Linked DNA regions of Homo sapiens. The protein of the gene in region 2 interacts with the protein of the main gene of each other region in a biochemical or structural test. Each region holds a gene or a part of one and is shown on either strand. Other genes may lie near its edges. The genes, in order: ATF7, NFE2L1 and BATF.

What was found.
Region 1: the proteins of NFE2L1 (region 2) and ATF7 interact in a test that uses a peptide from one of them, tested with the Homo sapiens proteins (one large-scale study listed by IntAct).
Region 3: the proteins of NFE2L1 (region 2) and BATF interact in a test that uses a peptide from one of them, tested with the Homo sapiens proteins (one large-scale study listed by IntAct).

Annotation. Positions count from the first base shown.
Region 1 is NC_000012.12:53,535,692-53,539,414, reverse strand, and holds part of ATF7 (cyclic AMP-dependent transcription factor ATF-7), read left to right. Parts: intron 1-1,074; exon of another isoform or gene 1,075-1,209; intron 1,210-1,862; coding exon 1,863-2,000; intron 2,001-3,723. Other genes in the region: ATF7-NPFF readthrough protein, read left to right, coding at 1,863-2,000. UniProt on the Homo sapiens protein: Stress-responsive chromatin regulator that plays a role in various biological processes including innate immunological memory, adipocyte differentiation or telomerase regulation.
Region 2 is NC_000017.11:48,051,359-48,054,858, reverse strand, and holds part of NFE2L1 (endoplasmic reticulum membrane sensor NFE2L1), read right to left. Parts: coding exon 3,231-3,500; intron 1-3,230.
Region 3 is NC_000014.9:75,539,265-75,542,987, reverse strand, and holds part of BATF (basic leucine zipper transcriptional factor ATF-like), read right to left. Parts: intron 1-3,723. UniProt on the Homo sapiens protein: AP-1 family transcription factor that controls the differentiation of lineage-specific cells in the immune system: specifically mediates the differentiation of T-helper 17 cells (Th17), follicular T-helper cells (TfH), CD8(+) dendritic cells and class-switch recombination (CSR) in B-cells.

The DNA.
Region 1 (3,723 bases), on a different chromosome or scaffold from region 2:
TCCAAGAAAGGGTTTTGCTATTTGCACAGGCTGGTCTAGAATTTCGGGCCTCAGGTGATCCTCCCACCTTGGCCTCCCAAAGTGTTGAGATTACAGGCATGAGCCACCACACTTGGCCTATGAGGGATTTTATACCCAATTTATTATAGGCAAATTCAAGAAAATTAGCTTCCCATAAAAAGCTTCAAGTCTTTTTCATTGCCATTTTAGCTCAGTTGACACTTCTGGGAGACTAGTTTATAGTCAGCCCTTTCCTCACTGGGCATTCCTTGGTGTATCCTCCTGCCTGTACAGGAGTGGTCTTTACTTCCCCTTAATGAGAAGTACAGGCTCAGTGGAAGAGTCTCCAGAAGTGTTTAATGAGTGTGGAACTTTGCTGAACCGCAGCTTTGCTAGGAGATGCCCTAGAGGATTTCAAATCTATGGTTGTATTTACTTAGAGGCTTCTCCTTCCCACTAGTCTCTGACTTAAGAGATCTCAGAATTAGCTAAATTGGACCTGACATCTTAGCTATGTAGAAAAAATGAGGCAGAAATGAAGCTACTTTTGCTGTTGCTCACCCTCCTCAGATTGGGGAAAATGAACCACTACTACCTTCTCTAATGTAGTAGATATCACATTATCTTTAATTTACTCAGCTAGCTATCAAGAAGGTTTCTAAGGGTTAGGGTAGCAAGGGAAGATCTTGAAACAAGCAGTTGCTTCACCAAGAAGCCTGGGATACAGGATAGATAGAACAAAGGATCCACTTTGTTATGAAACTGAACTGCAATGCCAACCCTCCTATCCTGGTTCAGTGTCAAGGCCATTATCTCAGATGGTTTATTGTTCCCTGCAAGGCCGTTTACAGCTCCACAGTTCTGTGAGGTGATTGCATCACTGCCAGGAAAGTGCTCTCTTTCCTTTCTGGTTTTCTCCAGTCTTGCTCCTAAGACCAAGTTGTCATTTATTTCACCAATCAGATGATCAGCCTTTCTTTTCTGTTACCCCAAACCCCTTGTCTACCTGATACATCCAGCACCATATTTTGGGGTGAGATCACCATCAAGCATGGTGAGTTCCCCAGAAAATACCTTTCCTATCTGGTTTGCAGTACTTGAATAGCCAGTTTGTCTTTGTTTGCTTTTGGTAATTGGGTAATCCTTGTTGGCAGAGAAAGTGTTCACAGCTCTCCAGTGGCCAGCAGATTCAGGAATTATTTTGATTTCCTGAAAAATATTATCATAATATTTGCATGGATTTAAATGGCATCTTTTTTTTCAGGTCTTTATAAATATTTGTTTACCATTGGTGAAGCAGGTATTATCTTCATCTTATAGTTGGGGAAACAGAAGCCCTGAGAATTACCGACAAAATGATTTGGCCAGAATTGTACATAAAACATAAGGGGCCCATATTTCTTGGCCGGATGCAGTGGCTCATTCCTGTAATCCCAACACTTTGGGAGGCTGAGGCAGGTGAATCACCTGAGGTCGGGAGTTCGAGATCAGCCTGACCAACATGGAGAAACCCCATCTCTATTAAAAATAAAAAATTAGCTGGGCGTGGTGGCACATGCCTATAATCCCAGCTACTTGGGAGGCTGAGGCGGGAGAATCTCTTGAACTTGGGAGGTGGAAGTTGCAGTGAGACGAGATCACACCATTGCACTCTAGCCTGGGCAACAAGATTGAAACTACGCCTCAAAATACAAAACAAATCAAACATAAGGGGCCCACATTTATTTGACATGCAGTTCAGTGCATTGTATAAGAGCAGAACTTCTTAGAAGCATATTCCCTTATCTTGGAAATGGGAAAATATAGATTCAACCTGAAAGGAATCATAGGGTTAAACTCTGTTCATTTTTCTTTCACAACAGGCTGCTGCTGGGCCCCTTGACATGTCTCTGCCTTCCACACCAGACATCAAAATCAAAGAAGAAGAGCCAGTGGAGGTAGACTCATCCCCACCTGATAGCCCTGCCTCTAGTCCCTGTTCCCCACCACTGAAGGAGAAGGTAAATTCTCTACCAAGGATCATCTCAAATGTTAATTGATAAAGTTTTGATTCATTAATTATATAAATAGTATGTCCTAACTACTCAGGAGGCCAAGATGGGAGAATCACTTGAGCCCAGAAATTCAAGACCAGCCTGGGCAACATGGAGAAACCCCATCTCCACTTAAAATACAAAAATTACCTGGGCGTGGTGGAGCATGCCTGTAGTTCCAGCTACTTGAGAGTATGAGGTGGAGGATCACTTAAGCCCTAGAGGTCGAGGCTGCAGTGAGCTGTGATTGCTCCACTGCACCCCAGCCTGGGCAACAGAGTGAGACTGTCTCAAGAAAAAAAAAAGTATGTATTATAGGAGGACCGATTGTATTTAAAGGAATATTTAGAAGATTTATATAAATTATACCTATTCTCCTTCCCAGCAATTTCACTTATAAGTCTATATGGAAGAGAAATTAGTGCATATGTCTACCAAAAGAAGTATGTTAGAATGTTCATAGCAATTGTATTCTTTTGTTGTTGTTGTTGTTGTTGAGACAGTCTCACTCTGTCACCCAGGCTGGAGTGCAATGGCGTGATCTTGGCTCACTGCAACCTCTGCCTCCCAGGTTTGAGCGATTCTCCTGCCTCAGCCTCCCAAGTAGCTGGGACTACAGGTGCGTGCCACCACGCCCGGCTAATTTTTGTACTTTTAGTAGAGATGGGGTTTCACCACATTTGTCAGGCTGGTCTCGATCTCCTGACCTCAGGCGATCTGCCCGCCTCGGCCTCCCAAAGTGCTAGGGTTACAGGATTGAGCCACCGCGCCCGGCCAGCAATTGTATTCTTAATAGCCAAAAATCAGTCAGGCACGGTGGCTCATGCCTGTAATCCCAGCACTTTGGGAGGCCGAGGTGGTGGAATCACTTGAGGCCAGGAGTTCAAGACCAGCCTGGCCAACATAGTGAAACCCCATCTCTACCAAAAATACAAAAATTAGCTGGATGTGGTGGTGTGTGCCTATAATCCCAGCTACTCGGGAGGCTGAGATAGGAGAATTGCTTGAACCCAGGAGGCCAGGGTTTCAGTGAGCCAAGATTGCACCATTGCACTCCAGCCTGAGCGACAGAGCAAAACTCCGTCTCAAAAAAAAAAAAAAAGTGAACTAATAATTACACAGCAATGTGAGTGAATCCCACAAACATATCCAACAACAACAAAAAAGTCATACACAAAAGTACATACTTATAAAATTCAAGAAGAGGCAAAACTGTTTGACAATGATAGAACTCAGGATAGCATTTACCTCCTGTGAAGGAATGGTGTGGATTGGAAAGGGACATAGAACTTTCTGGGGTGCTGGAAATGGTCTGTATCCTGATTTTACATCTGTAACAAGTCATCTTTTTTTTTTTTTCTTTTGAGAGAAAGTCTTGCTCTGATGCCCAGGCTGGAGTGCAGTGGTGCAATCTCAGCTCACTGCAACGTCTGCCTCCCAGGCTCAAGCAATTCTCTTGCTTCAGCCTCCCAAAGTGCTGCGATTACAGACGTGAGCACCGCACCCAGCCTAAAAGTCATTTTGTTGTTATGACTTTAATGCACATCACTGTATGTTATACTTCAATTAATAAGTGAGAAAGAAAAATTCACATAATTCATAAATTGGACATCTAACAGTTTCGAAAAAATGTCATCCTAGAGAGAAGTGATTTAAAGGAAGTATCTACTAGAAGTCTGATGATTATTCT
Region 2 (3,500 bases):
GCCCAGCCAGCCCCCTTCCTCCATCCTTGAGCAGCCCCCTCCCACCTCACAACCCCAGTTCCACTCAGGCGCCCAGCTGCCCCCACCCTGAGCTCACCGCAGAGGCTGCAGTGAGATGGGACTCCCACCCCATGCTCCGTGCTCAAGCTGCAGAGGAAAGCAAGCTCCCTCCTGGGCCTATCCTCCCGCTCCTCCCCCCCACGCCCCCCAAACTTGTTACCTAGGCTGCAGCAGGGAGCCAATCCCCACCCCCTCCCACCCCGCAGGTCACTGCTGAGGCTGCAGAGAGCCAATCCCCTCCCCCAGGTCAGCAGCTGGGCTGCGCAAAGAGCCAATCCCCTCCCACTGTCGTTACCTAGGCTGCGCCGAGAGCCAATCTCCTCCCCCAAGTCTCCGCTGGAGATGCGGAAGGAGCCAATCCCCTCCCACCGCCTGTTACCTAGCTGCAGACGGGAGCCAATCTCTGCATCAGGGCAGCTGGAGAAGCTGCCGCAAGGAACCAGCCCATCCCTGGGCCGCCTCCGTCTCCTTGAGGAGATGCGCCCAGGGGCGGGCAGCCCCACCCAGCCCAGTCAGTCAGCTGGGGTGGCGCAGTGAGAGCCCTGGGGGAAGGGGTGCCACTCTCCTCCCTCCTGTCGCATCTTGCTCATCCAGCCCACTCAGGACTGGGCAGACACTTCTCCCGCAGATTCTCTGGGAATCTAAATTATTTGCTGGAAGTGGAAAGAGTTATCCCATTCCTCAGGAAGGCAGTGGCCAGTTCTCAAGGCCAGGGATCACGAGCCAGGCTGGGCAGGAACCCAGGGCACCCAGGCCCACCATAAGCCGTAAGTTTTGTCACCCCAAAATAGGCCAGACTAGAGAAAAGGGGAAGGCCATTTTGCCCACGTGCAGCAATGTCACAGTGCTGGCCAAGCCTAGCCCCAAGCAAGAGGAGGGGAGACACAACCCTGAAGCCCCATACTTAGGGAGACAGGTGCTCTGCATTCTCCTGGCCACAAATGTCCCCCCTCCCCTTTCACCCCGGCTTTATTCAAGAGCATTCTCTGCCTGATTCCTGGCCCATATCTCATCCAAGCAGGAAAGAAGCCCCTCACAGACTCAGTATCACAATTCAGACTCCCTGGATTGGTTTCTCGAGGGGAAATTTAGCTCCCTCCCCACTGCTGCTCCCCTGGAGCCTAAGGTCAGGTCAGAGAGACAGTATGTTCTCTCTGGTCACAGTCAGCTCCTAGCCTGGAAAGAGCTGTAAACAGGCCACCCCCCTGCTCTGGGCAGAATGCCAATCTCAAGGGGAATCCTATCCCTGACAACAGCCTAGGCTATGGCTGTCCATAGAGCAGGCCTGGCAGCGGGGGAGTACTGCCACCCCAGGGATAATACCGGTTCCAGCAGTGCCTGTCACATGCTCTGGACCTGGGTATTTTTATCCCTGAGTTGCTGAGGAAATGTTGTTCTAGACACATAATAATCCTCCCTTCCCCCATACCCAGCCTGGGCCCCTAATGCTGACCCACCCCACCTCCCAAAGGGAGTTATAAAGGCCTGAGATGAGGAAAAGCACAACCTTCACGAGGGCCAAGAAACAGAGGAAAGCAGGGTCAAAGTCCCATCCCATTCGGCCCCAACCCACCCAATAATATCCAAAATATCCCATCCCATCCCAGCAGGAACAGATATGCAGCTACCCTGCAGGGTTTCCAGGAGCAAACCCAGTTACACCCACCCCTGGGGGAGCTACCCTGGGGGAGGAGCATAGAGCAGAGACTGGGAAGCACACTTCAGAACACTGTGCCAAGATTAGAGCCCACTTGAAGGAAAGGGGAAGCAGAAGAGAGGTGAAGTTCCAAGTGGCCCTGTAAGAAGCTAAATTAACAGGCCCTGAAAGGTAAGAAATGTTCCTGGCTCCTGCGCTCAGATAATCCTAGTCTCTCTCAAAGCAGGTCCAGTATGAGCCATTTGAGCACAGAGCCGAGTGTCTCAATCCCTGCACTACTGACACTTGGGGTCAGACAAATCTGTTGTTTGAAGGTGTTCTGTGCCATTCAAGATGTTAACCAGCATCCTTGGCCCCTACCCACTAGGTGCCAGTAGCAACCCCGCCCCAAGATGTGACAACCAAAACTGTTTCACGATATTGCCACCTGCACCCTCGGGGACAAAATCACCCCCAGTTGAGGACCACTGGCCTAGAACAAGCCATACTCTTTGACAGTCACTAACAGTCAGAGAACTAAGCTCAGGAAAAGACTACAGAGCAGGGAAGGAGGGAAAACGTGGTCTGACCTGGCAGGCAGAGAAGCCCATTTCTGTAACATCTGTAAAACTTTTTACATTCCTTCACATGCCACCTCCAAAAACCCAATCGGGCTTTCTCCTTCCCTAATGGCCAGGGGAGTGCAGTGGGCCTCTTTCCCGGCTACTTAAGGCTGGATGGCAAGCGAGAGCCATACAAACCCAGAGCTCAAAGCAATCTTATGTTGGTGAGGCAGGGGCAGCAGCAGCCATTCACATCTTGAAAGGCAAAGAACTGCATCGCTTTCTGCCCAGAACAGTATGTCAGCCATGTGACAAGAGCTAAGGATCTCTTCTGACAGCTCAAAGCAAGTTGACTTGGGCAGCAGAATGCAGTTTCTCTTTCTAGCTCCCAGACTTCTCTTCCCTACTCCCTGCAGTGGGCCTTTTGCAAAGATTGGAAGCCTTGGCCCTCTCCTGGCCAAGAATAACTATCCAAATCTACCCTTTGGCTCAGGCCCAGGAGGTCTGAATTATCAGGACAATACAACAACAGGCCTCGCCACAAAGGAGAACTTCAGGGTATGTCTGTGTTCTGATGTGGGGGGAGGTACAAAACAAGAGTCCAAAAAGTATTTGTGTCTTAGCAACAGATGTACACTGCATCAAAGCCCATCACAACATGACTCCTCCCCCACCCCAGGCCTCCAGCAGTCACGCTGAAATCCAAGCAGTAAACACCCTGGCATGTGTAGGAACCTCCCACTGCCCTGACAGTACATTTAGAGGTAGGTCAATGGTTCAACACAGGGAAATGCTCCCAGCCCCCAATCCTAAAGTCAGAAAGTTCAGCCCATCCCTACCCAAGAACAGTGCCTGAGGCCCTGCTGAAACCTGTCTGGCTCTTTACAGGGCTCAGTGTTCTGACCACAATCCTTTGGGACCAGCCCACCCCCAAGCCCCAGGCCCCACACACCCACCACAGGTCCACTAACCTCTTTGGTTAAGTCTCCACTGACTGGGGGGGCTACAGCCCCCAAATCCTCCAAATCTTCACCGAATCCCTGCTCCGTTTCGCTTTCTCGCACCCCGTTGTCTGGGCCTGTCACATCTTGGAGGCCACTGGAACTCTCGAGGGCGAGGCCTGAGTTGGGCTGACTGCCAGAGACAGACCCCTCTGGGTCTCGGTGAACCAGCCAGGCATTTACCTCAGTGGTTGGCACCTGGAACCTGTCCAGGGCCCTCACCTGACTGAGGAGCCGCCG
Region 3 (3,723 bases), on a different chromosome or scaffold from region 2:
CCGAGGCAGAAGGGAGGGCCACTCTGACCTTCTCCCCGCCTAGAGGCTGGCCCAGCTTTCGGGAAGTGACAGCGGGTCCTTCCTCCCTAAGCAAGCTCTGCTGAGCTCACTCTAGCTCTGTCGTCTGCCTCCCCCTCCCTGGCTTGCAGATCCCAGAGCTCTAGGCAAAGTTTGTAACCGCTGCCTGCTGCCTCTAACCAGAAAACCACCGCCAGTGATAAGAAACTTGTCTTTACCTTGGGAAGCAAGAGTGCTTCCTGCTAGGGCCCCCAAGAAACCTGCCCTGCCAGCCCAGGGACCGTGCAGCCAGCCTGACACTTATGAGAGAAAGGGTTTGACTTCCCTTGCAGGAGGAAGTGGCTGATCTGGGGCCTCGTCCCTCCATGTCCCTGCTATTGCCCAGTCCCCTCTGGCCCTCCTTGGGGCAGTCATGCCCTGGAAAGGGCTCGCCCAGCTGAAGGGACAACTGGCAAAGGTGGCATGAGAGCAGCTGTTTATCCAGAGGTACAACAGTGACATCCCCTAACAATGAGGGCTGGACACCTAGAGCACAGTGAGGCTGGGAGGAAATGCAGCTTCTCCCATATGCATGTCTTCTGCTACTGAGAGGGGTGGGGGTGAGCCTGCATTTGGGCATCCATGTACCCATCTTTCTCCTATTCAGAATTCATCCAGGTCCATCAGACTCCTCACAATAACGCTCTGTGTGGGATAGGGAAGGTCAGCTGTTATTATCCCCACTCTACAGATGAGGACAACTGAGACCCTGGGACAAACCTATGCCACATACCCTCCAAAATGACCACAGGCTGGTGACAGCTGTGCTATAGGATTCACCTCAAGGCACTTGTTTTCTCAGAAGTTCAGAAACTTTGAGTGTTTGATGCAAAGACTCATTGCCCGCGAGGGAGGCGCAGAGCAGGGCTTGGCTCGGGGCCCTGTGTTCCTTCTCTCACACTGACTGCTTCCCCCGAGAGACTGGAGACTTGAGTGGGCAAAGGTCTCCCGAGAACACTAGAAAGTTGGCCAGGTGCTGTGGCTCACGCCTGTAATCCCAGCACTTTGGGAGGCTGAGGTGGGCAGATCACTTGAGGTCAGGAATTCAAGACCAGCCTGGCCAGCATGGTGAAGCCCTGTCTCTACAAAAAATACAAAAATTAGCCGGGCGTGGTGGCGCATGCCTGTAGTCCCAGCAACTCCGGAGGCTGAGGCAGGAGAATCACTTGAACCTGGGAGGCAGAAGTTGCAGTGAGCCAAGATTTTACCATTGTAGTTCAGCCTGGGCAACCCAGCAAGACTCTGTCTCAAAAAACAAAACAAAACAAAACAAAAAAATAAGTCCTTGGCTACCCTGTTGTCTCCCAGGAGAAAGCTGGGTCTCGGTTTTGGTGACCCACACACAACACAACACAACACAAGATCCCTGAGTCACTCACATTCTTCCAATCATAGAGCTGACCATCTGCCTCCTGGGCTGCATGGAGAGGGGGTCACCTGGCCAGATATTCTGGACAAGGGCTGACTCGAGGCCAGACCTTCCTCCAGACACAGAGCCAGGTCCTGAACTCATGACCACGGTGAGCTCCATCAGCGGTAAATGGGAATAGGAACTTGGGCCCTGGTCCTGGCTGGGTGATCCTCAGTGACTCGATTTCCCTATTCAGCTCCAGTTGCCTCACTTTAAAATGGAAAGACTGGACCAAAACAATGATTCTCAACCTCATCCACACACTGGGGTCCCCTGGGGAGCTTTAGCAATCCTGATGCCTGATTCTGATCTAATAGGTCTAAGGTGTAACCTGGCTCAATTTATACGAAAAAGGTGGATAGAAACCAAAATTTTTTTAAAAAAATAGCCTAGGTTAACTTAACTATCATTTATTTGTTTATTTAATTTTTGAGACAGAGTCTCTCTCTGTTGCCCAGACTGGGAGTGCAGTGGTGCAATCTCAGCTCACCGCAACCTCTGCCTCCCTGGTTCAAGCAATTCTCCCCACCTCAGCCTTCTGGGTAGCTGGGGTTACAGGTGCCCGCCAATACACTTGGCTAACTTTTTGTATTTCTAGTAGAGACGGGGTTTCACCATGTTGGCCAGGCTGGTTTTGAACTTCTGACCGCAAGTGATCCGCCTGCCTCAGCCTCCCAAAGTTCTGGGATTTCAGGCGTGAATCATCCATGCCTGGCCAATAACTAACATTTATTGAATACTTCCGTGTGCCAATCACTCTTTTAAGTATTTTATGGTTATCATTACATTTGATATTTTCAACAAACTTGTGTGGTAGAAAATATTATCTCCGTTTTACAGAAGAGGAAAAACAGAGGAACAGAGAAGTTAAGTCACTGGCTCAAGATCACGCAGCTTGGAAGTTGCAGCACCGGTACTTGAATTGAGGCACTCTGGCTTCAGAGTCTGTGCCCTCCATCCTTTCTTGCCTTTAAAGTCTGTTTAAACGTTATACTGTTTGACAGTTCTCTCCTATGAGATAATTCCTCAGCCCCGGTGGCTTTCCAATTTTATCTTCCCTCTTTTCCCACCTCAGGCAAATCCCTCACCTGTGGGGTCATTTGATGCCACCTACCTCTACCATGAACCGCAAGCAGCTTGGGGGTGGCTAAGGAAGAGGCTTCCTGGGGGCGTGGGAACATTCTGGGAAATCCCCTACTGGAGGGGCTTAGGAGGGGGTCACTCACAGAGCGCTTCAACGATGGGGAATCCCCAGGCAGTTCCCTCACCCGCCGGGAGCCATTAGGGACGAAGACCAAGGACAAGGCTGGCATTTCCTAGCTGGGCCCTGGTGGGGACTGTCCAGGCACCCTGAGCAGGGCTGAGGCTTCCTCCCTACCAGCTCCAGTTTAGTGTCTTGGCCTTCTCCTTGCATTTTCTAATCACAATTTCCAGAAGGGTGAAAATAGTCCCTGTGTATTTTCTCCTCAACAGGACATGTAATCATGTATTGGCAGGGTGACCTTTTGGCTCCCACCTACACTTAAGTGGCGTTCGAAGCTTATCCCTCACACCCAGATATATGTTCAGGCTCCATCAGTTACCAGCCCCTGTACGTCACATGCAGAGGGTGGAGCCCGCCATTCCTGGAGCAGGCTTCCAACTGAAAAGTACGACTCTTCCCAAGCAGCGGGAGGATCTAGGCCCACATCTCCCACCATTCCTGGGGAAATTCACCCCAACTGCTGCCTCTCACCTTATGAAAGGAGAAGAAGAATCACCAAACCACAGATCTTTGCGCTGAATAATGCACGTGTGTGATTCTGGAGGAACCTTCACTTTCATGTCTTAGAGCTGAAGCTCTAGGGCCATAAGCACCTTTGCATTTACAGAAGATTGGCCACATCAGCCGTGCCCTCAGGGACCTGTCTAGTCACAGGGTGAAAAGGCTATCGCCTGGTCCTTGGTTTTCAAGACTATGATTTCATTGCCCTCAAATGTGAAAAAAACTATAGTTTGGTTCATTCAGCGTCCATCCCAAACCCCTTCTGCCTTGCCTTCCTCTAGAAAGACTGGGAAAAGAATTGCTAAAAAAAAAAAAAAAAAAAAAAAAAAATTCCAGCTTACCTTACCTTGTAGCTAGGGGTAGCCATGTGACAGAATTCTGACCAAAGATACGTAAGCAGAAGTACCTGATGGGCGGGAGGGAGGTGAAGGCAGAGCTTCCCTTCCTACCAAAAAGGCACAGCCTGCTCATAAGGACAAAGGCTTCCTTC